7 linked regions of the Homo sapiens genome follow. The protein of the gene in region 3 purifies or fractionates together with the protein of the main gene of each other region. This does not show direct contact. Each region holds a gene or a part of one and is shown on either strand. Other genes may lie near its edges. The genes, in order: NAP1L1, TUBB6, PRKCZ, NIPSNAP1, PRDX4, CD44 and HADHA.

Region 1 (3,500 bases), on a different chromosome or scaffold from region 3:
TCCTTTTTCCTGATATGTCTATGCTCCCCTCCTTTTTCCTAATAACTTGTATGGGTGAGATATATGTAAAAGAAAAATCCAAGTAATCATTGTTCTCAGAATTAAGATGGTCTGTCCATGACTTCAGCAATGACAAGTCCAACACTTAACTTGGGTAAAGATTTAGGGTTGACAATATGATTTACATTTTGTTTATCAATTTACCCAGTTACATTTCTACTTTTGAAATATAGCCAGTGGATCAATGTATTTATATCTATTTGATTTTTATTTACTTTGAATCTACCTTTTGCTTCAGATAAAAAACCTGTCATTCACTAACTCCAATGCTTCAGTTTCAGTATGACAAAAGAAGTGTGACTTCCATTTTACTCTGATGCTATATAACTGATTTCTAACCTTTCAGCCTGCCTAGGGTAGTTAAAAGACGAGTGAATGCTCTCAAAAACCTGCAAGTTAAATGTGCACAGATAGAAGCCAAATTCTATGAGGAAGTTCACGATCTTGAAAGGAAGTATGCTGTTCTCTATCAGCCTCTATTTGATAAGGTAATGCTTTCTCCTACTTTGTTTAATTTAACATTCTAGAAGACGAATTCTAGAAACATAAGCAGACTTGGAAGAGGTTAATCTTTAGAACTCTCATTGAAATTGTTATTAGAGGCAGCACTTGGAGGAACTATCAATAATAGCAGTTAAAGTTGTGGTATGCATTTGTTAAATTTGTAAGACTTCTTAGTGAGAAACCACTGGTTTTAGCTTGGATGCCAGTGTTTTTATACAGCCTTTTTTTTTTAAATCATTTTAGCGATTTGAAATTATTAATGCAATTTATGAACCTACGGAAGAAGAATGTGAATGGAAACCAGATGAAGAAGATGAGATTTCGGTTAGTACCAACTTTATTTTGGTATGTTTTTAAGATGATAAAATCTTAGGACTTGTCAGAAATGTTAGCATTTAATGATGGAGTACAATATTATATAACCAGTTGTATTTTTTCATTTTTTAATTTTACGTCTTTATTACACGTTTTTCTATTACTTTATTTTTAAAAAACAGTCATTCAAGATTGTAATTTGCATGGCAATAAGCAGCGGTTTCATGGGTTCTAAGTTTCTTAAGTGTCCACAGCAGTTTAAAACACCACAAGTCTTATTTCCAATTTGCAGCACCTGACTTAAAGTTCGAATTCATCTGATGGAGCATTAAAACTGTCATTTTCTCTTGTGAAAAGACATAATTGCTATTTCCAGGACTGTATATTGAACATGGTTGTACATTATTTTTAATTGGTTAGTAGAATTTTACTCATGTAATTTATATCCAGAATAAGAACCTCTAGCATCTCTGAATGGCCTTCCTCTCAGAACGATGATGATTAAATGTCTAAAATGTATCTGGGGTGCCCCCACTTGACATTACCAAACATGTTTCCAAATAATCTTAGAAAATATGATTCTTTAAACATATGCATACCACATCTTTAAACATAAACATACCACACAGTGCACCATCACTTCCTTAACCATTTTCCAATTGTTCACTTATAACATTTGCAATTTTTTATTATAAATCATATTGTGATGAATACTTTCATCCATAAGTTTTATTGCAAGGCTTATTGTTTCTTCTAATGTCTTCTAATTTCAAAGAAGTGGCTTACTGGTTCAAACAGTGCACATACGTGGTTTTAAGGCTTTTAGTATACTTTACCAAATAATCTCCAGAATAGCTCCAACAACTCCTACCAACAGTATGTTATTGTGCCCATAGGGTGGACTTGATAACAGCAAAGCAAATTCAACCACAGATATATTAGATTCTCACCCATCTCAAAACTATCACATCAGAGAAGCAAGGAGACATATTATTGGTGAGGAAGCCAAATTCAAATTCTTTTAAAAAATCACTCAGCTTTAGATCAGTAAAATAATCAACAAAAATGGTCACCGCAAAGTCTACCGGGTTTTTCAAAAAATAAAAAGAGAGAAAGAGAAAGGCCAGGCGCAGTGGCTCATGCCTGTAATCCCAGCACTTTGGGAGGCCTAGGTGGGCCAATCACTAGGTCAGGAGTTCGAGACCAGCCTGGCCAACATGGTGAAATCCCATCTCTACTAAAAATACAAAATATTAGCTGGGTGTGGAGGCGGGTGCCTCTAATCCCACCTACTCGGGAGGCTCAGGCAGGAGAATCACTTGAACTCGGGAAGTCGAGGTTGCAGTGAGCCGAGATCGCACCACTGCGCTCCAGCCCAGGCGACAGTGTGAGACTCCGTCTCAAAAAAAAAAAAAAAAAGTACCAAATAACCAAAATTTTTTATTTGACTAAATTCTGTTCATGTATGAGCATGACAGTCTCTCCTGTTTATTTGACTTTGGCAATAAAAAAATAAGCAGCCTTGTACAGAACAGGGAAAATGCCAAGAACGAAGGCAGTCTACAGTTTTACTGTAGAATACATATATATATATATATATATATATATATATGTAGGCCTCTCTCCCTTTGGCCATATCTACTGTCAGTTCAGGCCATTAACTACAGACAAATTTTCAAATTCACTTCTTCTCCAAGATCTTCGATGCTGTCATCATCTACTTCTGTCTGTTTTTCCTGAATGACCTCAATTATGTCATCTGTAAAGTCTCCTTGAATGATAATTTCATCCTCCTCTGTTACTGAGGCACCACAGGAGAATTTTTGAGCAAAAAATCTTTGTGTGATTTAAGATCAATTTCAAAAGTTACAAGGCCACAACCCTTGTCACATATTTCTTTGCTCTGGGAATTTTGGCTATAGTAACCTTTTGTGGTACCGTCTTTGTTTTTTTGTTTTATTTGACCCCTTCCACCTCTCTTCTGTTTTTTCTTCTCCTCTTCTTCCCCTGCTGTTCCTTGACCTTGACAGATTCCAGCTTCTTGTTTGGGTGAATTTTCCACAGTAAGTTTTGCATATTCATTTGGAAAATTCTTCTCTAATCATTGTCTACATTTAGCAACATCAGGCATATATTCACAGTACTCTATTGGTAATGAACAGACTCCACAATAAAGGACTCAAAGTAGGTAATCAGCATCTAACTTGGCTCTGTTCCTTGGGTCTCCTTTGCAGTCAGCCCTATTGGAATCGGAAACGTCAGCAGCCATTTCACAAACCCAGGCAGTTGCACAGGCCCCGCCAGCTCTGCTCCCGCCACTGTTGCCAGCTGAGCCGACAAATGCAACTCGTTTCCCCGGCCAGGGCCTCCCTAGAGCATCAGTTGTATTTTTATACCTAGGAAATATTTTTCCTTTTTGTAAGAATGATAATGCAGATGAACTGTTATTCAACCTGGCACCACCATCTGTACTCAAAAAGTCATTATTTCCTTACATTTTATAGTTTTTTTGTTTAAGAGACAGGGACTTGCTGTGTTGCCCAGGCTGGAGTACACTGGCATGATCTTGGCTCACTGCAGCTCATTCCTGGGCCCAAGCTATTCTCCCACCTCAGCCTCCC
Region 2 (3,500 bases), on a different chromosome or scaffold from region 3:
TTTGGTGGGAAGGAACCTCTATATCTCTAAATGAAATTCTTCTACTGGTAGTTCTTGATTAAAAAACAAAAATCAAGCCAGGCGCGGTGGCTCATGCCTGTAATCCCACCACTTTGGGAGGCCAAGACGAGCGGATCACGAGGTCAGGAGATCAAGACCATCCTGGCTGACACGGTGAAACCCTGTCTCTACTAAAAATACAAAAAATTAGCCGGGCATGGTGGCACGTGCCTGTAGTCCCAGCTACTCGGGAGGCTGAGGCAGGAGAATCGCTGGAACCCGGGAGGTAGAGGTTGCAGTGAGCTGAGATTGCACTACTGCACTCCAACCTGGGTGACAGAGCGAGACTCCATCTCAAAAATAGCAAAAAACAAAAAAACAAAAACCAAGAAACAATTTTAGACATTAGCTTCTTTTTCCCCATCATTATAAAGTTATTTTGCCATTTGTTTTTGGTTCCTATATTGGTTTTATCAGAATTAGGTAAATCCTTTTTTTCTTGCTTCTTCCACCTAAAAAATGATAGTAAAACATATCTTTCTGCAGACTTCTGAAGAAAATTATATAAAATTACATGAAGTGGTACCATTAGTGTTATCAAGTAGAACCTACAGGATAGGTGGCAGATTTGGAAGTTTCCCACCTATTTTAATGTTAGAGACCACATATCTATTGACATTATTGCTAAAAAAAAAAATTCCTCACTCAATCAAACATATTTCCAATACCTGTGAAAAGCAGTGTCTTCCAAGAAAATGTGAAGAATTTGAAGACTGATTCTGGCTTAAAAGCACTATGGTGTAGGAATCAAATACATCATGAAAAATCTACATTCTAACCCCTTTCTCAAAAGGCACCAGGAAGAGATAGTTTAATAGAGGGTAACAGACAATCCCATTATCCAAACCATTCCAGAGAGAAAATGATGGAAAACTTCCCAACATTTCCTATGAGGCTAGGTAGCTTCTACTAGAACATACAAGTGAAAGCTGTATATCAAACTTACTTAAAAATATAGATGCAAAAATCCAAAATAAAATACTTAGAATATCAAATGTAGTTGTGTTTTTTAAAAAATATATTAATAGCACATTGTGACCAAGTAAGACTGAGAGGCAGACAGTGTAATGGTTAGGAGTCTGGCTGTGCTGCCAGACTCCCTGGGTTTAAATTTTGGCCCTTCCACTCACTATGTGGCCTTAGACTTATTTAACTTACTTGTGACTTAATTTCCTCATCACAAGTGGGACTGTCTACCTCTTAGTGAGATGTAAGGATTAAATAAACACTTAGAATGTCTAGTACAAAATAAGTGTTTGAGAAATACTAGCAACATCCCAGGAATGCAAGGATGGTTCAACATTAAGAAGTCTACTAATAGATTAAAGACAACATCTTAATAGATGACCCAAAAAAGTGGGTTTTTTTTCTGACTCCCAGCAGGAAACAATTTTTTAAAAAAGATTAAAGTTTTGGAAGCCAGGAGCAGTAGCTAACGCCTGTAATCCCAGCACTTTGGGAGGCCAAGGCGGGCGGATCACCTGAGGTCGGGAGTTTGAGACCAGCCTGACCAACATGGAGAAACCCCATCTCTACTAAAAATACAAAATTAGCCCAGTGTGGTGGCACATGCCTGTAATCCCAGCTACTCGGGAGGCTGAGGCAGGAGAATCACTTGAACCCAGCAGGCGGAGGTTGGGGTGAACCAAGATCGCACCATTGCACTCCAGCCTGGGCAACAAGAGTGAAATTCTATCTCAAAAAAAAAAAAAAAAAGATAAAGTTTTGGATGTGTTCCTGATTTGTAGAGGACAAAAAAACTTCTATGTAAGCTGGAAGTAGAAAGAAACTTCCTTTATTTACAGATTATCTACCAGAAACCCATAGCAACATTACACTCCCTGGTGAAACAGAAGCATTTCCAGCAGAATTAGGTATAAGAAACAGATGTCCATTGTCTCTACAATTATTCCATGTTCTGAAGGCTTTAGCCAGTGCACAAAAACCAGAGAAAGAAAAAATGCAAATCATGTAAAGGAAAAGACAAAAGTGTTATTTGTTGATGAAATGATTCTCTTGGAGTTTCCAGATAGGCTATCAGCTGAAAAATGACTAGCACTTACAAGACTTCAGTAAGGGAGCCAGACACAAGATAAAATATTCAGAAATTAATAGTTTTGCGATCAGGTTACCAATCTTTCTGATTTGCCTGGAACTGGGAGGTGTTCCCCAGGACACTAGACTTTGAGTGCTAAAACTGCCAGGGTCCCAGGCAAACTGGAACAGATGAATCACATTAAAAGCAATAATCACTGGGGAACACATCCTATTCACAACTGTAATAAAAGCTATAAATACCTGGGGACAAAATTTACTACTAACTAGAGGCAAGAGGGAATTAAAACAAAATATTCTCCCACCAGATTGGCCAGTATTTCAGAAGCTGCTAAGACCTAGTGTTGGTGAAGGTGTTTGGGAAAATAACAGCTGTTCAGAGAACTACTTAGTAGATTGAGCAAATCAATAATTTCCATCCAAGAGTTCCAGTTCAAGGAATCTGTTCTGCAGAAATGCTCACACATAGAGATTGCAGATTGGCCTCCAGAAGAGCTGAATCCATTTGCATGCCCACGGGGGGTGTCTGAGAGCTCCTCTTGCCCAGTGTCATCCTTGTCAATTCAGAGGGACTGCTCTCTGAGTACTGTAATAAAGACCTGACTTGGATAACATTAATATTCTGTATTGTGAGAAAGGAAAAAGGACGATCCTACTTTATACAGATCAGCATTGAGTAACTCACTTACTAAGTAGGTATAGACTCAGCAGCCACAGCTTCTTTCTGGACCACATTCCCAGGTCACAGAGTTAACATAGCCAGGAAGAAAGAGCACCGCACCGGGAGAGGGAAACTGAGCAGCTGACCCTAGCTCTGTGCCCGCTGGCAGCATCAGTTCCCTTCTCTGGGGGTCTTCATTTTACTATCTGAAATGAAGGACCCCCCCCAAGCATCTTGGGGTCACAGACCCCTGTAAGAATCTGCGAGAAGAAATGGCCCTATCTCCCCCACTTGTTGTAGAATTCTGCCCAGTCTTCTCCTTGAGGTTCAGTGGATTTTTGGTGAGAATCTGAGCGAGCGGACAGCTAAGATTTCTTGAGTCTGAATTATAGTTGGCTGAGTCTACCGTAGTCTCAGTAAGCTTTACCAGACACAATTCATGTATTTCCAACTAATACACCTTTTAGAAATCACACCTCTTCTTTGATAGGCAGTGTGTGCACATGGTGCGTAGCTGGAAAGGCCATACAGTGAAAACCCACCTCCCTCCCTGCCTGCCTCCCTCGCAGGAGTCCTTCCTGAGATTGGGAAACAGTTACAAGCATATCTGTGAATTTTTATAGATAAAAAAGATCTTAAAGTTTTACATATGTAAAATATATACCTTCTTCAAAGAAGGATATGAAACAACAGTAAAAGACAGGCATAAATGTAGCAGTTTACA
Region 3 (3,500 bases):
GTAGAGACGGGGTTTCACCGTGTTAGCCAGGATGGTCTCAGTCTCCTGACCTCGTGATCTGCCTGCCTCAGCCTCCCAAAGTGCTGGGATTACAGATGTGAGCCACCGCGCCCGGCCTTTTCTTTGACATTTTATTAACCCAAATGAAAACTGCTCTTAACAAAGAACCCGTAAACCACTCAGAGGCTCCAGTGGCCAGCGTAGGGCCCGCGGCGCATGTGGACAGAGGGGACAGCCCCACCAGCCACCTCACCTGCCCGGTGCTCCCTAGGCCCGGCTCCAGGCTCACAGCTGTCCTCAGCTTTAAGTTCAAAGCCCCATGATGAGCTGACGCATGGGAGATGTGATTGTGATCATTTCCACTTTGTCTTTAGGTGGGCGTGGGCTCCTCCCCGGTACTGCTGGGGGTCTGCAGGGCGTCTGGGGCCTGGGAATGTGGTTCCAGCGCTGTGGCCAGCCGGTCACGTCTTTGTCTCTGTGTCCACTTCTGGCGTAGCTTGGGCTCCTTGCCAGGCGTCTGGCCATGGACGATTGAGTCCAAGATGGGACCAAAGCTCGAAACCACCCATGGATTTCTGACAGATCCATCATTCTCCTGGACACCGGGCTACCTGGTTACAACACTTAATTTTCTTCGCCCTTTATATCAATGAGGCTCTAAATTTAAAGACTAGGCCGGGTGCGGTGGCTCACAACTGTAATCCCAGCACTTTGGGAGGTCAAGGTGGGAGGATCGCTTCAGCCTAGGAGTTCAAGACCAACCTGGGCAACATAGTGAGACCCCCCCCTCTCCAAAACTTGTTTTATTTTTTTGAGACAGAGTCTGGCTCTGTCCCCAGGCTGGAGTGCAGTGGCACTATCTCTGTTCACTGCAACCTCCACCTCCCAGATATAAGCGATTGTCCTGCCTCAGCCTCCCGAGTAGCTGGGACTACAGGCATGTGCCACCACACTTGGCTAATTTTTTTTTTTTTTTAGTTGGAGTCTCGCTCTGTCGCCCAGGCTGGAGTGCAGTGACGCGATCTCAGCTCAATGCAACCTCCGCCTCCCGGGTTCAAGCAATTCTTCTGCCTCACCCTCCCAAGTAGCTGGGACTACAGGCATGTGTCATCACGCCTGGCTAATGTTTTGTATTTTTAGTAGAGACGGAGTTTCACCATGTTAGCCAAGATGGTCTCGATCTCCTGACCTCGTGATCCACCCGCCTCAGCCTCCCAAAGTGCTGGGATTACAGGCGTGAGCCACGGTGCCCGGCCTAATTTTTGTATTTTTAGTAGAGATGGGGTCTCGCCATGTTGGCCAGGCTGTTCTCAAACTCCTGACCTTAGGTGATCTGCCTGCCTCAGCTTCCTGAAGTGTTGGGATTACAGGCGTGAGCCACGGTGCCCGGCCCCAATTTTTTTTTTTTTTTTTTTTTTTGATATTCAGACGTGGTGGTGCACCTGTAGTCCCAGTTACTCGGGAGGCTGAGGTGGGAGGATTCCTTGAGCACAGGAGGTAGAGGCTACAGTGAACTGTGATTATTCCACTGCACTCTAGCCTGAGTGATGGGGCGAAACCCTGTGTCAGATAAATAAATTCATAGATGTGCCTAATCTAGTCCTTTTTATTGTGGTTGTGATAGTAAGCACATTTTGCCTCTCTATGTGGAAAGATACAGTGGCTTAAAAATTCACATTGTTTTCTAGATAAAAGAAAAATAGGGCTGGGTTCAGTGGCACACACTTGTAATCCCAGCACTTTGGGAGGCCGAGGCAGGTGGATCACTTGAGGTCAGGAGTTCAAGACCAGCCTGACCAACATGGTGAAACCCCATCTCTACTATAAATACAAAAATTAGCCGGGCGTGGTGGTGTACACTTGTAATCCCAGCTACTTGGGAGGCTGAGGCAGGAGAACTGCTGGAACCCGAGAGGTGGAGGTTGCAGTGAGCTGAGATTGTGCCACTGAGCTCCAGCCTGGGCACAGAGTGAGACTCCATCTGAAAAAAACCAACAAAAAACAAAAAATGTTTGTTTTTTTAAAGTTTCAATACTTTTATGTGTATACACACACACATAAAAAAGTAGAGATGGGGTTTCGTCATGTTGGCCAGGCTGGTCTTGAACTCCTGGCCTGAAGCCATCCTCTCATCTCGGCCTCCCAAAGTGCTGGGATTGCAGGCGTGAGCCATCATGTCCAGCCAAGTTTTAATACTTTCTAAGCACCTATTTTAATAATTTATTGTGGAAGCCCAGGATATATGTTAAAATAATTTTGAACTCTGTCTTGAGTATGAAGAAGTGGAATCTAAAGTGCTTTTAAAAGTCAGTGTTCAAAGTAATTGCATTTCTTTCCCATTTTTATATAGTTTAAAAATACAAATCAGTAGCTTCCTCTGATGGCTTTGCTGTCCAGGTCCCTCTGATTGCCTTTTACTCTAAGTTTTTCCGTGGGTTTTAAAGTCGGAGCCTGGCCTACGTAGACGCACGGGGTTTTGCGTCTCCCAGGAGCGGGCTCTCATTGGCAGTGCCACGTGCGCCTTGCGTGAAGTCCACGTGCTCAGCCTGACTGAGGCGGGACTTCCTCCGTGAGACTGTTGAGTGGCAGCCGCAGGGTCTTGACGCTGTCTCTTTCTCTCTCTTGTCCAGTTTTCCCGAGCACCCCTGAGCAGCCTGGCCTGCCATGTCCGGGAGAAGACAGTGAGTACTGGGGTTTCCTACGCCGGTCTCGCATGTTACGGGGTTGAACTGTTGATCCGTTGTGCCACGGAGGTGGCAGTGGTGCCGTTTTCGGAGGTTCACCCTCGTGGAGCGTCAGGGCAGGAGCAGCCGTGGTGACCGCAGGTGGGGTTTTCACTGCAGCTGCTGCCTGTGCGTGTTCTGGCTGACAGCACCACATGGCGGGGGACTCGCTTGGCTGGTTGGTAGCATGAGAAGTCCAGGGGTGCCCTGCCGTCTCCCTAGGAGGGAGGGGCCAGGTGGGAGGCTGGACACTGCTCCTTTGTGGCTGCCTCAGCTCACGACCACCCCTAGGCCAGTCGTCTGCTCCTCCTGGTCCCTGCTGGCCCCTGAGCTGGTGTGGGGGCTCCGTTCATCCCACACTGGCTCCATTGTTGGGAGAGGAAGGAGAGTGAGTCCCGGGGGCTGTGGCTTCAGAGGGAAGCTTCTGACCTCACTTCCTACTGCATCCCGGAGACTGTTGGGCCCTGAGCAGGTGGCTACGCTGCTCTCGGGCCGCGCATCCCATGGCTGTGCTTGGTGGGGTTCCACCCCCACTCTCCAGACCCCACACGGCCTCCAGCATCCGTGCCATGCCTTGTTCGTTGTGTGGGCAGGAGCTCCTGGACCGAGGCCGCTGCCTGTCCAGCGCAGGGCACGTGGCTCAGTGCCCTTCAGGCAGGGCTTCCCCCACCCCTGCTGCCAGGGCACACACCTCGCTGGCCTCAGGCTGGATGCTGGGTGTTGGCAGTGCCCTGTGTTGGGCGGGAACTGGGGGTGGGAGCAGATTCAGGCCAAGAG
Region 4 (3,500 bases), on a different chromosome or scaffold from region 3:
CTTAGATGTAAAGTCACAAAAAGATCAATTTCAGATTACAAATAATATTTATAGAAAATAGGCAAGGAGTCTGGGAGCGGTGGCTCAAGTGTATAATCACGACACTTTGGGAGGCCGAGGTGGGCAAATCACAAGGTCAAGAGATCGAGACCATCCTGGCCAATATGGTGAAACCCCATCTCTACTAAAAATACAAAAATTAGCTGGGCGTGGTGGCGCATGCCTGTAGTCCCAGATACTCGGGAGGATGAGGCAGGAGAATCAGTTGAACCCGGGAGGTGGAGGTTGCAGTGAGCTGAGATCACGCCATTGCACTCCAGCCTGGCAACAGAGCGAGACTCCGTCTCAAAAAAAAAGAAGAAAAAAAAAAAAGGCAGGGAGAGATGATGGTGAAAAACATAGGGGATCTACATTGGTCTAGGTAGACAAATAATGCCTCTCTGAGGAAGTAAAATGTAAGCTGAGAGCTAAAGGATGAGAAGGAGCCAGCTGTGAATTGCTAGGCAAAAGCATTCCAAGTAGACAGAGCAGCACATGCAAAGGCCCTGTGGTGGGGAAAGGCCTTCGGGGTTTTGAGGTGTGGCAAGGAGGCCAGTGTGGAGTGAGTAGGGAAGAATGTGGGGAGATGGAACAGGAGAGGGGGAATGAGTTGGGATTTATTGTAAATGCAATGAGAGACTATTTGTTTCAAATAGCAGTGACACGACCTGATTTTTGTTCTAGTATGATTTCTCTGGCTGCTGTCTGCTTTGTTAAGAGTGCTTGGTAGGCGAGCAAGAGAGAAAGCAGGGCTTCAGGAAGCCATTACTCTAGTTCAGGCAGGAGGGGATGGGGCAGTGGGATGCTGAGAAGTCCACAGAAGATTTGTTAGTCTAGAGGTGGAACCAACAGGACTTGTGGATGAATTGTCTGTGTGGGGCAAGAGAAGGAGAAGGGCATTCCAGAAGAGCTCCCAGGCTCGTGCTTGAGCTGCTGTGTGTCATCTCCTGAGTCTGGGAGGTCTAGGGAAGGAGCAAGTCAGTGGGGTCAGGAGCGTAATTTTGGCCCTTGGAATTGTTACTTTTTTTTTTTTTCTTTGAGACACAGTCTTGCTCTGTCACCTAGGCTGGAGTGCAGTAGTGTGATCTCAGCTCACTGCAACCTCCGCTTCCCAAGTTCAAGTGATTCTCGTGCCTCACGCTCCTGAGTAGCTGGGATTACAGGCATGCAGTACCATGCCCAACTAATTTTTCTATTTTTAGTACAGAGTTTCGCTATGTTGGCCAGACTGGCCTCGAACTCCTGGCCTCAAGCAGTCCACCAGCCTCGGCCTCCCAAAGTGCTGGGATTATAGGCATGAGCCACCGCACCTAGCCGGAAGTGTTAACACTAAAAATGCTGACACACCAAAGTAGAGATGTCAAGTAGGCAGTAGATGGATATAGGAGTCTGGAGCCCTTGGGAGTGTTTGCGACTAGAAATATAAATGTAGGCAATATTAACATATGTACTGATTGGATGGATGATTAAAGCAGACAGTGTTTGCTAATAGTCTGAGGGAGGCATCTAGGGAGGAGGAGACAGCAGTGCAGGGTTTAGGGGACAGTGGGAAGAGGGCCCTGTGCTGGGTAAGGGATCCAGTCCTCTGTGCCTGAGGAATGAGCCTGTGCCTTTCTCACAGCCTATAAAGACCTGCAGTCTCGGGAGGAGACTCGAAACGCTGCCTGGAGGAAGAGAGGCTGGGATGAAAATGTCTACTATACAGGTGAGTGAAGCCTTTGGAGGTCTTCTGCTGAGAACCCTGTCTGAGGATGGAATCCTCTCTGCAAGGAGATCTAGTCTTTCTTGATTACCTCCAGTGATGGGGAACTCACTTTTAAGACAATGAGTTAATGGGTTTCTATCCAAGTGGCACACTCCATAGGATACCAGCAGGCCTAGGTGAGTACTCTAGGGGATGATAACATAGCCAGGGCCACGCCTCTGCCTAGGAGATGTGGATTAGCAAACGCCCATTGTGACCTTGGGCACGGTTCTTTACCTCGCTGAGGCTGTTCCCTCGTCTGTAAGATAGTGATGGTGATAGTGCTTCTGTCAGAGGGCTATAACGGAAGATTCTACAAACTATTTTATTATTTTATATTTTATTTTATTTTATTTATTTTTGAGACACAGTCTCACTCTGTCACCCAGGGTGGAGTGCAGTGGCATGATCTTGGCTCACTGTAGCCTCCGCCTCCCAGGTTCAAGCCATTCTCCTGCCTCAGCCTCCCGAGTAGCTGGGATTACAGGCGTGTGTCACCATGTCCAGCTAATTTTGTATTTTTAGTAGAGACGGGGTTTTATCATGTTGGCCAAGCTGGTCTCGAACTCCTGACCTCAGGTGATCCGCCTGCCTCGGCCTCCCAAAGTGCTGTGATTACAGGCATGAGCCACCACATCTGGCCCACAAACTCATTTATGAAAAGTGCTTTCTCCAGTGTCTGTCACAAAGGAAGCATGCAGGAAATGTTTTTGAATAAGGTTTTTGTTTTTGTAGAGATGCAGTCTTACTATGTCACCCAGGCAGGTCTCAAACTCCTGGGCTCAAGCAGTCCTCCCACCTCAGCCTTCCAAAGTGCTGGGATCATAGGCATGAGCTACTGTGCCCAGCCTTGAACAAGTTTTTTGCTCAAGGTGTTTGCCACTTTGCTAGGAACCTGAAACCACCTAGAGTCAGTGGGTGTTAATTAAGCCCTCACTGTGTGCCGGGAACTGTGGTAGGTAGGTGGTTGAGGGGCACATAAATGAACAAGAGCCTGTCCTTGCCATTGAGAAGTTTACAGTGATCACTTACCAGGTGGTATGAGGGAGAATGTGTCTGCTGAAGGAGTTAGCAGGAGCCTTGCTATTCAGTGTGGTCCCAGCTGGGTATGGTGGCTCACAACTGAAATCCTAGTACTTTGGGAGGCCAAGGCAAGAGGATCACTTGAGGTCAGTAGTTTAAGACCAGCCTGGGCAACATAGGGAGACCCCATCTCTACAAAACATTTTTTAAAAATTAGCAGGACGTGGTGTTTCCCATCTGTAGTCCCAGCTACTTGGAAGGCTGAGGTGGGAGGATCACTTGATCCCAGGAGTTTGAGGCTGCAGGGAGCCATGATTGTGCCATTGCACTCCAGCCTGGGCAACAGTGAGACCCTATCTCAAAAATAAAAAATAAAAATAATAAAAAACAAGACAAGCACAGTGGCTTACACCTGTAATCCCAGCACTATGAAGTTGAGGTATGTGGATCAATTGAGGCCAGGAGTTGGAGACCAGTCTCGGCAACATGGTGAAACCTCGTCTCTACTAAAAATAAAAAAAATTAGCCAGGCATGGTAACTCAAGCCTGTAATCCCAGCTACTCGGGAGGCTGAGGCACAAGAATCACTTGAACCCAGGAGGCGGAGGTTGCATTGAGCCGAGAACCTGCCACTGCACTCCAGCCTGGAAGACAGAGTGAGACCCTGTCTCAAAAAAAACAAAAAACAAAAAAA
Region 5 (3,500 bases), on a different chromosome or scaffold from region 3:
TGTGAGACATGGTCAAGAAAGTTTGAAAAACATAGACTTAGTTAGGGCACAAGTTCCTACCAGATACCAATACAGGATTTTAACATGTTTCAGGTATTCAGGTACAGCACTGTCATGTCCAAGTAGACAGTTCTAATCTCGGATGATGTCCCTGGAAACCTGGGCTATAAAATGTATTTTTAATATTTTCTAAAGGGTAGGAATGGTCAGCCTCAGCCTTCCTTTTTTTTTTTTTTTGTGGCAGGGTCTCACTCTGTCACCCAGGCTGGAGTGCAGTGGCGCGATCTCAGCTCACTGCAACCTCCGCCTCCCGGGTTCAAGCAATTCTCCTGCCTCAGCCTGCTGAGTAACTGGGACTACAAACGCCCACCACCACGCCCGGGTAATTTTGTTTGTATTTTCAGTAGAGACGGGGTTTCACCTTGTTGGCCAGGCTGGTCTAGAACTCCTGACCTCAGGTGATCCGCCCATGTTGGCCTCCCAAAGTGCTGGGATTACAGGCGTGAGCCACTGCACCCAGCCTCTGCCTTTCTTCTTATTTCAAGGAATGCTACCTAGAGATACATTTGACCAACTTCTTAGTGAAGACAGAAAAAGTTTTGGCAGGAAACTGAAGGGTTACGTTTGTAACTTTCCTCCTTGTAGACTGTGGCAAATGCCCCAGAATTCTTCCTTCTCTAACCAGGCACAGTCCAGCATTACATGAAAACAGGAAGAGGCTATCTTAGCTCCTTGTCCCAGAAGACCATTGCTAACAACATGCTCCAATTAACTATCTCTTACCCATTATGGAGTTATGAATAACAATGGAGAAACACAGAACATATTTTTCTGCTACATTAGACTAACTTCCAAATTCAGGGTGTTAGTCGTATATATTTAACATACATGTTAACCTTCTGGTTTTATAACAACATGAATTTAGAAGGCCTGTCATTTTTTATGTCTACTGAAATTTCTACTTCTGGTTTCTATTAGAAATTAAGCTATACTTAAAAAAATCAAGTCACAATATGAGTTGATTAGAAAGAAGCAAGTTCTTATAATTTAAAAGATTATATATTATGCAGACTCATAACTTTAGTCTCAATGTAATAATTTTCATGAGAATTCTTCCTTTGTGGCTTAGAGCAGGGGTTGGCAAATAGGTCAATAGGCCAAATCCAGCAGAAAAAATTTGTTAATCCCTGGCCTAGAAACAACCTATAGCAATGAGCTTAAGTATACCCTCCCTGCAAGTTTAAATTTGATCTATGTAGTTCCAGATTAGTCCTAATGGAAAAAGGCACAGTGGCAAAGATAGAGGAGGAAACTTCTAGTTATTTGTTGTAACCAAAAAGTAAGTTCCAAGAGAATAAAAGATAAAAATTGACATAACTCTTTTTGGTCTCTTCTCACTTTCATGAATTTTGAAAAACACTCAAAATAGTGTTTTGTAAAATAAAATTAAATCCTCAACGTGAATAAAGCTGTAAGGGTATTTACTTTTAGTCAACTTTCTGACCATATACAAAAACGCTCACTGTCACAGAGTTAAAAAAAGACGAGAAACCCCACAATAACCATAACATATACACAGGTGTTATTCCTTATTCCTTAAGCAGTATATAATATTTTCAGCAAAATGTTCAAATCCCAGAAAAGCAACAGATGCAGCAAAGAATAAAAATGGAAAAACCACAGTTACATGGTATCACTAGAGAAAATGGCTTAATTTTCTTTTTCTTTTCTTTTTGAGATGGAGTCTCGCTGTCGCCAGGCTGGAGTGCAGTGGCACTATCTCAGCTTACTGCAACCTCCGCCTCCAGGGTTCAAGCAATTCTCCTGCCTCAGCCTCCCGAGTAGCTGGGACTACAGGCGCGTACCACCACGCCCAGCTAATTTTTGCATTTTTAGTAGAGATGGGGTTTTACCATGTTGGCCAGGATGGTCTCGATCTCTTGACCTTGTAATCCACCTGCCTTGGCCTCCCAAAGTGCTGGGATTACAGAATTAATTTTCTAATCAAGAGAGATACAGTAAAAAGAATTATGGCATAGGTCTTGCTATTAAATGCTTTCTAATATATTATCAGTCCATTTTCTTGCCTTAGTAGGTATAGCTTAATGAATATATTGTAGCTTTCCTCTAATTATTCCATTATAACATAATCATGTAGACATAAGTATTGAGGTCGGTGTGTTATGACTCTGAAATATATGGTAGATGTTACCTTTTTAAATACATTTCTTTACTTCAGCTTGCCTTTTTAAAAACCAAGAGCTGAACAAAATAATTTGTTTGATACTCCTGAAAAATAATTGATAAAGACTGAGATTTTACTAGCTATTTACATGTATTACTTACAAATCAAGTGGGTAGAAGAAGAAAACCAAGTATTTCCCACGATAATCAGTTAACTTCAGCTCCTTAAATTCTCCATCGATCACAGCTGTTCCTTCCCAGTAGGGCGCTGGCTTGGAAACTAAGAAAATAAAATACATGATGTTCTGTAACACTGAGAAAGTTGGTGGAATGGTAGAAGGACATCTTTAGAAAATCACTAAAAATCAGGGCTACCTTTAGATCTCTTTGGCAGTCTGGTGAAGCTTACAGACTTCTTAAAAGAGTGTTATTGAATGCAAAAAGGAAAATACATAGAATTACAAAAGAAACCAATTGTATTTAAATGCAATTATAAAAATATTAAAAAAAATTGGTGATATCATAATACATGTGCTCTATAACACTTCAAAACTGCAAGATCTAGTTGTAATCTGACAACTACGTAAGATAATGATGAGTGAAAATGGTGTTTCAGGATACCTGCGATAACCATATGTAGCAAGAAAATAAGTGATTCTATTGGTGAAAGGTACAAGCAAGTGCTGCTGAAGATAGTGTAGTTTGTTGCTGACATTCATAATAGAAGGAAACACTAAATTTCAGATGGGGATTAGTGAAAATAAATACTTTTTTCCCCTATTCATGCTCACAGACCCCTTAAATTCTACCCTGCACTAAACCCTCCTGGATACTTCACTATAGTCCCGCTTCAAGTTGTCAACTTCCTACATTTCAAATAATTAGATTTTCCTTTCTCTAATGGCAGTCTTCCAGATGTACTAGTTTGTCCAGCTTCTGACATACACATGGAGGACCTGCTGCAGATGAGGCTACACAAAATGAGGAGGGAATGTACAAATATGTCAGGCCAGAAGTGTAAAATCCCAGACCATGGGATCATTTTCCTAGAGGGCTTTGAAAGAAGACTCCCTTGAACAGGTTTCAAGTGACCCAATGGAAACTGAACAGTTCATGCTGCTCTCTTGTAAGGGCGTACAGTAATTTTAGCCAACACACTTAGATACTAATGCACCTTCATGCTCTGTTAACACATTCAGATAGCACTTATACTTTCAGACCCCTTACAAACACTGAAGTCAATGCTTGCTTCTAAGTTTGGCTAAGGGTCCTAGAAAGTAAGGCTTATACTTCTCTGTAACAGCCACCATTTATGG
Region 6 (3,500 bases), on a different chromosome or scaffold from region 3:
GAAGATGAAAGAGACAGACACCTCAGTTTTTCTGGATCAGGCATTGATGATGATGAAGATTTTATCTCCAGCACCAGTAAGAATAATCAATTACAGTACAGCCATTTATGCAAGGCTTATTGATTAATCTGAGTGATACCAAATTGTATCTCTCTTGAGAAGTAGTTAATGTGAAAAATGGGTGAACCTATGATCATACCTTAGTTATATCTTGATGAGATTATGGAAGAAGAAATAGAATGTTTTGAGAAGTGGGGAAAATATCTCACAAAATTTCTCTTGTCTCATGTTCTTCCTGTTTTATTTATCTATGGGATCTACTGCTACAGATTGTCTTTGAATGATCAGGCTTTATCAGAGAATGACATTAAAACAGTACAAAAAATGTACATTGTGTACTTACTGTGCTAGGTGCTGGAAACACGAAGATGAAAAGAGCCAGAGCCTTTGCTTTTCAGAAGCTCATGGTCTGTTGGAGCAATAGACTTGAAGAATGTGATGAGGAGGGTATTAATTAAAAGTTGTAGGCCAGGCGTGGTGGCTCACACCTGTAATCCCAGCACCCTGGGAGGCCGAGGCGGGCAGATGACGAGGTCAGGAGATCGAGACCATCCTGGCTAACACAGTGAAACCCCATCTCTACTAAAAAATACAAAAAATTAACCAGGCGTAGTGGCGGGTGCCTGTAGTCCTAGCTATTCGGGAGGCTGAGGCAGGAGAATGGTGTGAACCCAGGAGGAGATCGCGCCACTGCACTCCAGCACTCTAACCTGGGTGACAGAGCCAGACTCCATCTCAAAAAAAAAAAAAAAAAGTTGTGGAAGTTCCTAAATTGAAGGCCCTAAAGGCTTAAATGATGGGAGCTAGAACTCAAGAATTATCTTAGTTAATCAAAGCCCAGCTGAGGTCAAAGGAACAAATCCAGAGTTTTAACAAATGAGCTGGACACCAATATAGCAGAAAGACCTTGAAGGGAAGGGCAAATGTCAGGTTAGCTTTAGCAAGACATTGCCACTTATTAAAAGCAAATAATGAAACCACTATTGGTACATAATAGTATCCAAATTTTTGACAATTATAAAACTTTTTGAGAACAAAGAGATGGAAATTGAGCTTTAAAGATATCCTTAAAAAGTTAAAAACATGCAAAGGTTGGTCTAATATTCTGCCAGATTACTGAGTTTTCCACACATACCTGTAATGACTTAAGATTTTGCTGAACAGAGCTGAGAATCCTGAACCTGACTCCATCACAGTTCTGCTTTTCCTTAGAAAAAAGGCTTTTGGGGTGCTGTGTGAGCTCTCCCAATTCACTGAAGTTCTATCCATTCCATTAAAATCTGAGAATTTCATCCTCAAATGGACAGAGAAGAAAGGGTCCAGAAAAAAAAATAGCTTAGGCCTTGAAGGCATCTGAGTATATAACATTGATATGACAAATACTCAAAAGGAACTAGAATTTTCTATCTAAACTTTTAAGTGATTTTTTTTTTAGACCCGACACCCCTCCAGAGCTTAATCTATGGAATAAGAAAATTCCTTTTGGTAACTTCAGAACAAAAACCAAATAATCAAAAACACTGGAGTTTTACATTATACTGTCTCCTGTGTTCAGCATGTGGCCCAGCTTTGCAGATGGGCCCATCAGTAAATACGTGGTCTTGATACTGAAGAAATTAAATTCCCTTGGGTGGTAACCCAAACAGATCTACCTGTAAATGAATTGTATGGTCAGGCTTCAGGGAAAAATTTCCCATGGTGTTGTTTTTTTTTTTTTTTTTTTTTTTTTTTAATTTTTTAAATCTCTATGGCATATTTTTCCAATTTCTGCTTTTCTTTTTTTTTCTTTTCTGCTTAGCACCTATGGACATAATTCAACATGATGCCCTCTTTCTTCTGGAGGGGTGTGATAACTGCTTGATAATAAGCACTTTTTCAGGCCTATTGAGAATGTGGTTAATGATTCTAAACTTGATTTTTCATAACTTGTAAAATAGAGCTGACAGTATTATAGTTCTGAAAACAGTTTTGCGTTATTTGGGTATCAAAATAAAGTTTGAAACAATTAGGATGGATTTGCAAATAACCTTTCACAAAACATGTTGACTCAGATTTTGTCATGATCCTTCTGTTAGGTGCATCTCTTATTCCAGCCCTAACAGATTGGGTGACAATATCAGGGTGCTGGTGGATGTACGCCTCTTTCTTTCCAGTGTGCTGCTATGATGGTGGCTGGTTACCTGTGGTGTCTTATTTTCTTTCACTGGCTATGAATGGCTTGCTCATGACATATTTTGTATTTGATGAGAATACCATAGTGTTTGATAAATATTCAGAAATGTATCGCTAAAACATATGGCTATTCTAGGTATTCTTTTTCAGAATCATCTATAGGAAAGCTCTAGCTGCTCAGGCATTCCTTTCCCCACTGAAATTACTAACAACATAAAGTGATTATCATGGTATAACTTTCAGTTATCTGCCTCTTCACCCGGAGGATCTACAAACAGCACACAGTGACTAAGTCCCTGGGCTTTCAAGTGCAGAGGGATACTACAGACTGCATGGATGGGCAAAATGGCGCCTTTGGTTATCCTCGGTGGAGGGCTGGTGTTTTCAAAGCTGTCCTTCCTACTGCTGCAGCTTCTTTGACTGTTTTATCTGGAAGATCTCATGTTCTGAACCCCAAGGTATTCTATGACAGAATGCAAAGGACACTGAGATGCTTACCAATATGGCTGAATTAAGCTGAAGTCACCCTCCGCTTTCCCTCCATTTCCATGCAGCCATCTATACAACCTGGTATAGATGATTCATTGCATAGCCTACAGAAGCAAGACTATGTGCGGGACAAGTGGCGAAGGCTCAAGAAATAACATTTTTCTAATTGCTTCAATCATCGTTATCACAGTTTCAACCACACCACGGGCTTTTGACCACACAAAACAGAACCAGGACTGGACCCAGTGGAACCCAAGCCATTCAAATCCGGAAGTGCTACTTCAGACAACCACAAGGATGACTGGTAATGGGTTCTGCATATTTAATGAAAGATTTTTTTCCCCTCAAAGCCCATGATGCTGCAAAGGTCAATCATCGAGGCACAGTGGGAAATTTAGTTAATATCTGATCAAGAAATTCTTAGTGGACTTTTATGAGGATACTTAATTCCATTTAGGAGTCATTTATCAATTATACCATGTGGGCACAGGATTTTTTATGTTGCTTCATGATAAAAATGAATATGTTTGAATGGTTTGTGGTTCTGCCTTTGACAAACTGATCATAGTGGAATAATAAGGGAACATGAAGAAATTCCAAGCCCATTGATTTTCTCTTGAGACCAATTAGGTAAAGTCACTCAAAATTTTTGAGAGTGGATGCTCAGAGGTAACACTTTGGCATAGAATTGTTAAATAGCATGCACTTTAATGGAAGAATAGAATCATTAAAGATTGGTTGATAACAAGTCACAGTGTATTTAACCATCATCACAGCAG
Region 7 (3,500 bases), on a different chromosome or scaffold from region 3:
TGAAGGCTGAGGTGGAAAGATCACTTAAGCCTAGGAATTCAAGGTTACAGTGAGCTATGATTGCACCACTGCACTCCAGCCTGGGCCACAGAGCAAGACCTTGTCTCTCTAAAAAACAACAACAACAAACTTATAGCCAGAGGCTTAGATGTAATAAGACCTAGATGGAAGCAGTTGACAACTATCACAAATTAAGGTAAATAAGAGCCATTCCCCTTTACTAGAGTAAATTTTAGCACTCACTAACCAATGATTCAAGCTTAAGATATTTTTTCAGAATTTTCTTAGGTTGGACATTTTTCCTGAACACAAAAGTAATATATGTCAATGGTAGAAAATTTTTCAACTATAAAAAATTATAAAGAAGAAAATAATAAACATTCATAATTCAAACCTAAAGATAACCACATCTTTTTCTTGGTATCTTCCATGGGATAATCACATTTAATTCAGTTTCAATGAATAATATTTACAAAACTAAGATCATACTATATGGTTTTTTTTGAAGATAGGGTCTCATTCTGTTGCCTAGGCTGGAGTGCAGTGGCACAGTCACAGGTTAGTGCAGCTTCAGCCTCCCCAGGCTCAGGTGATCCTCCCACCTAAGCCTCCTGAGTAGCTGGGACTATAGGCGTGTGCTGTCAGGCCCGGCTAATTTTTGTATTTTCTGTAGAGGCAAGGTTCCATTATGTTGCCCAGGCTGGTCTCGAACTCCTGAACTCAAGTGATCCGCCCACCTTGGCCTCCCAAAGTGCAGGGATTACAGGGATGAGCCACCATGCCTGGCCTATATGTCTTATTTGTATTTCATTTTTTTCTTAACATTATGCAGATTTTTTCCATGCCAATAAATGTTTGTAGACCTATTTGTTTATAGCCTACATATGATTCAAACTCTGAGGATGACCCTGAGTTTCTCCTTTGAGAAGACCTATTTTTAAAGGAAGGGGTGCTTGTAGTGGGCCAAAGCTGCCTGAATAGAAAGCTACTGACTTGCTGGGAGAATGATATTTCTTACTCTCTTCTAACAGTATATTTCTGCCGGATAAGTATATTTCTTATAATCAAAATAGCATTTGATGGTGGTACGTACATCCAGTGCTTCAAATTTAAACCCTTACCTGTATATATTTCCCTTTGGCAGGTAAATACACTGAGTAAAGAGCTACATTCAGAGTTCTCAGAAGTTATGAATGAAATCTGGGCTAGTGATCAAATCAGAAGTGCCGTCCTTATCTCATCAAAGCCAGGCTGCTTTATTGCAGGTGCTGATATCAAGTAAGTTTTAGGAAACTTGAAGTCACCTTTTATCTTGGTTAATAGTGTGTTTCTTAGGCCTAATAATTTCTCCTTTTAAAAGAAAGTAGAAGTGCTGGGCACAGTGACACAGGCCTGTAAAATTGAAAATGTACGTATCAGGCTGGGTGTGGTGGTTCTTGCCTGTAATCCCAGCACTTTGGGAGGCCGAGGCAGGTGGATCACATGAGGCCAAGAGCTCAAGACCAGCCTGGCCAACATGGTGAAACCCTGTCTCCACTAAAAATACAAAAATTAGGCATGGTGGCACACGCTTGTAATCTCAGCTACTCAGGAGGCTGTGGCACGAAAATCCCTTGAACCTGGGAGGCAGAGGTTGCAGTGAGCCGAGATCACACCACTGCACTCCAGCCTGGGTGACAGAGTGAGACTGTCTTAAAAAAAAAAAGTATATACACACACACACACACACACACACACACACACACACACACAGAGTATATATATATATATATACACACACACACACACACACATCATGTGATCTAGAGAAATCTCACCCCTTGTTTATAAGAACCAGTGTACAAGGATGTTTGGTCCTGTGTAGTGTGAAATAATGAAGAATTTAAAACCAAATGTCAGTCAGTAGGAAAATGGGTAAGTAAAATGTGGACTATTCACACAATAGAATACTACAAAACAGGTAAAAGGAATTAACTAGATCCACAATATGATGTTAGAACTCAAAAACATAAGGTTAAGTTAAAAGAAAAGCAAATTGCAGAATGTTTCATACAGTATATAGTTTCTATAAATGTTTTAAAACCAAACATGGAATAATTCTTGATACTATTTATGGACACAATCGTAGTTGGTCTGGAAGGAGACACTACAAACATGAAGATGGCTGCTTTGGGGAAATGAAGTGGGTGGTAGGACTTGATTGTTAAAGGCAGCTTTACAGATGCAGCTAGTATTTTCTTTTCCTCTGCTAAATGGTGGAATGCATGCCTACATTAACTTATTTACAATTGTTTACACATACATAAGGAGGGGAAATGATATTTTAGTGTCAGTTTAATAGGTTAAAATGTTAAGTTGTCAATTCCATTAAAATATGGGTATTTGTTATGTTCTTTGTATTTTAGACAATGATAGCCAGCATTGTAGGTTTAGTAATTTGTACTGAAAGTGTAATTATTTATGTGTAGTAATCAGTCTCTTGTTAGGCACAAATAATTCAGCTAGAAGAAAAACCACTTGATAAGATAATTTTGGGTCTTCTAAAAAATTAACATTAAACAGAACATTTATAAAGTCTAACAAGACACTGATGTACCTGGCAGTAGCTACCTATATCCAGAGGAAAATACATGTAGCTTCTATGAGGCCAGCTGAGCAACTCTCAGTGTATAAAATTACAGAATATACTAGTTATCCTTGGTCAAAAGTACAAAATCCATATCCTAAGTGTGTTCACAAAATAGCAAATGAAACAAACTGAAATTAAAGGACATTGAGTGGAACATCATTGCACCTGATCATTTTTATTTACTTATTTATTTTTGAGACGGAGTCTCCCTCTGCTGTCCAGGCTGGAGTACAGTGGTGCGATCTCGGCCCACTGCAACCTCCACCTCCCAGGTTCCAGTGATTCTCTCGCCTCAGCCTCCCGAGTAGCCAGGACTACAGGAATGCAGCACCACGCCCAGCTAATTTTTGTATTTTTAGTAGAGACGCGGTTTCACCATGTTGACCAGCCTGGTCTCGAACTCCTGACCTCAGGTGATCCACCTGCCTTGGCCTCTCAAAGTGCTGGGATTACAGGCATGAGCCACCATGCCTGGCCTACCTGGTCATTTTTATTCATTAGTGGGATCTGTTAAAATGTTTTAGATTTCTCTAAACAACCTGGAAGCTTTTCTTTTGCGTCATTTTTATTGCTGTTAACTACCTGATAGTGAAATGTTTAATCTGATAGTGAAGTAATTTACCAAAGATGATTTTCCCTTGTACCAAGCTTTGTAATTTAATGATTTATTACAGAAGTAAAAATAAATTATGCAACACATTTATGTTTTCTGGATCCAGAATTTTTTTTTTTTTTTTTGAGACAGAGTCTCACTCTGTCGCCCAGGCTGGAGTGCAGTGGCGCGATCTCGGCTCACTGCAAGCTCCACCTCCCGGTTTCACACTGTTCTCCTGCCTCAGCCTCCCAAGTAGCTGGGACTACAGGCGCCCGC

The links.
Region 1: the proteins of PRKCZ (region 3) and NAP1L1 purify together in Homo sapiens (affinity purification with mass spectrometry; 2 studies listed by BioGRID and IntAct, with this or other methods). This does not show direct contact.
Region 2: the proteins of PRKCZ (region 3) and TUBB6 purify together in Homo sapiens (affinity purification with mass spectrometry; 2 studies listed by BioGRID and IntAct, with this or other methods). This does not show direct contact.
Region 4: the proteins of PRKCZ (region 3) and NIPSNAP1 purify together in Homo sapiens (affinity purification with mass spectrometry; 2 studies listed by BioGRID and IntAct, with this or other methods). This does not show direct contact.
Region 5: the proteins of PRKCZ (region 3) and PRDX4 purify together in Homo sapiens (affinity purification with mass spectrometry; 2 studies listed by BioGRID and IntAct, with this or other methods). This does not show direct contact.
Region 6: the proteins of PRKCZ (region 3) and CD44 purify together in Homo sapiens (affinity purification with western blotting; 2 studies listed by BioGRID and IntAct, with this or other methods). This does not show direct contact.
Region 7: the proteins of PRKCZ (region 3) and HADHA purify together in Homo sapiens (affinity purification with mass spectrometry; 2 studies listed by BioGRID and IntAct, with this or other methods). This does not show direct contact.

The regions. Positions count from the first base shown.
Region 1 is NC_000012.12:76,057,186-76,060,685, reverse strand, and holds part of NAP1L1 (nucleosome assembly protein 1-like 1), read left to right. Parts: intron 1-406; coding exon 407-548; intron 549-807; coding exon 808-888; intron 889-3,500. UniProt on the Homo sapiens protein: Histone chaperone that plays a role in the nuclear import of H2A-H2B and nucleosome assembly.
Region 2 is NC_000018.10:12,311,241-12,314,740, forward strand, and holds part of TUBB6 (tubulin beta-6 chain), read left to right. Parts: intron 1-3,500. UniProt on the Homo sapiens protein: Tubulin is the major constituent of microtubules, a cylinder consisting of laterally associated linear protofilaments composed of alpha- and beta-tubulin heterodimers.
Region 3 is NC_000001.11:2,056,911-2,060,410, forward strand, and holds part of PRKCZ (protein kinase C zeta type), read left to right. Parts: intron 1-2,630; coding exon 2,631-2,681; intron 2,682-3,500. UniProt on the Homo sapiens protein: Calcium- and diacylglycerol-independent serine/threonine-protein kinase that functions in phosphatidylinositol 3-kinase (PI3K) pathway and mitogen-activated protein (MAP) kinase cascade, and is involved in NF-kappa-B activation, mitogenic signaling, cell proliferation, cell polarity, inflammatory response and maintenance of long-term potentiation (LTP).
Region 4 is NC_000022.11:29,557,114-29,560,613, reverse strand, and holds part of NIPSNAP1 (protein NipSnap homolog 1), read left to right. Parts: intron 1-1,660; coding exon 1,661-1,744; intron 1,745-3,500.
Region 5 is NC_000023.11:23,670,493-23,673,992, reverse strand, and holds part of PRDX4 (peroxiredoxin-4 precursor), read right to left. Parts: intron 2,465-3,500; coding exon 2,347-2,464; intron 1-2,346. UniProt on the Homo sapiens protein: Thiol-specific peroxidase that catalyzes the reduction of hydrogen peroxide and organic hydroperoxides to water and alcohols, respectively.
Region 6 is NC_000011.10:35,198,171-35,201,670, forward strand, and holds part of CD44 (CD44 antigen isoform 1 precursor), read left to right. Parts: coding exon 1-76; intron 77-2,475; coding exon of another isoform or gene 2,476-2,747; exon of another isoform or gene 2,748-2,911; coding exon 2,912-3,025; exon of another isoform or gene 3,026-3,497; coding exon of another isoform or gene 3,498-3,500. UniProt on the Homo sapiens protein: Cell-surface receptor that plays a role in cell-cell interactions, cell adhesion and migration, helping them to sense and respond to changes in the tissue microenvironment.
Region 7 is NC_000002.12:26,234,633-26,238,132, reverse strand, and holds part of HADHA (trifunctional enzyme subunit alpha, mitochondrial precursor), read left to right. Parts: intron 1-1,144; coding exon 1,145-1,278; intron 1,279-3,500. UniProt on the Homo sapiens protein: Mitochondrial trifunctional enzyme catalyzes the last three of the four reactions of the mitochondrial beta-oxidation pathway.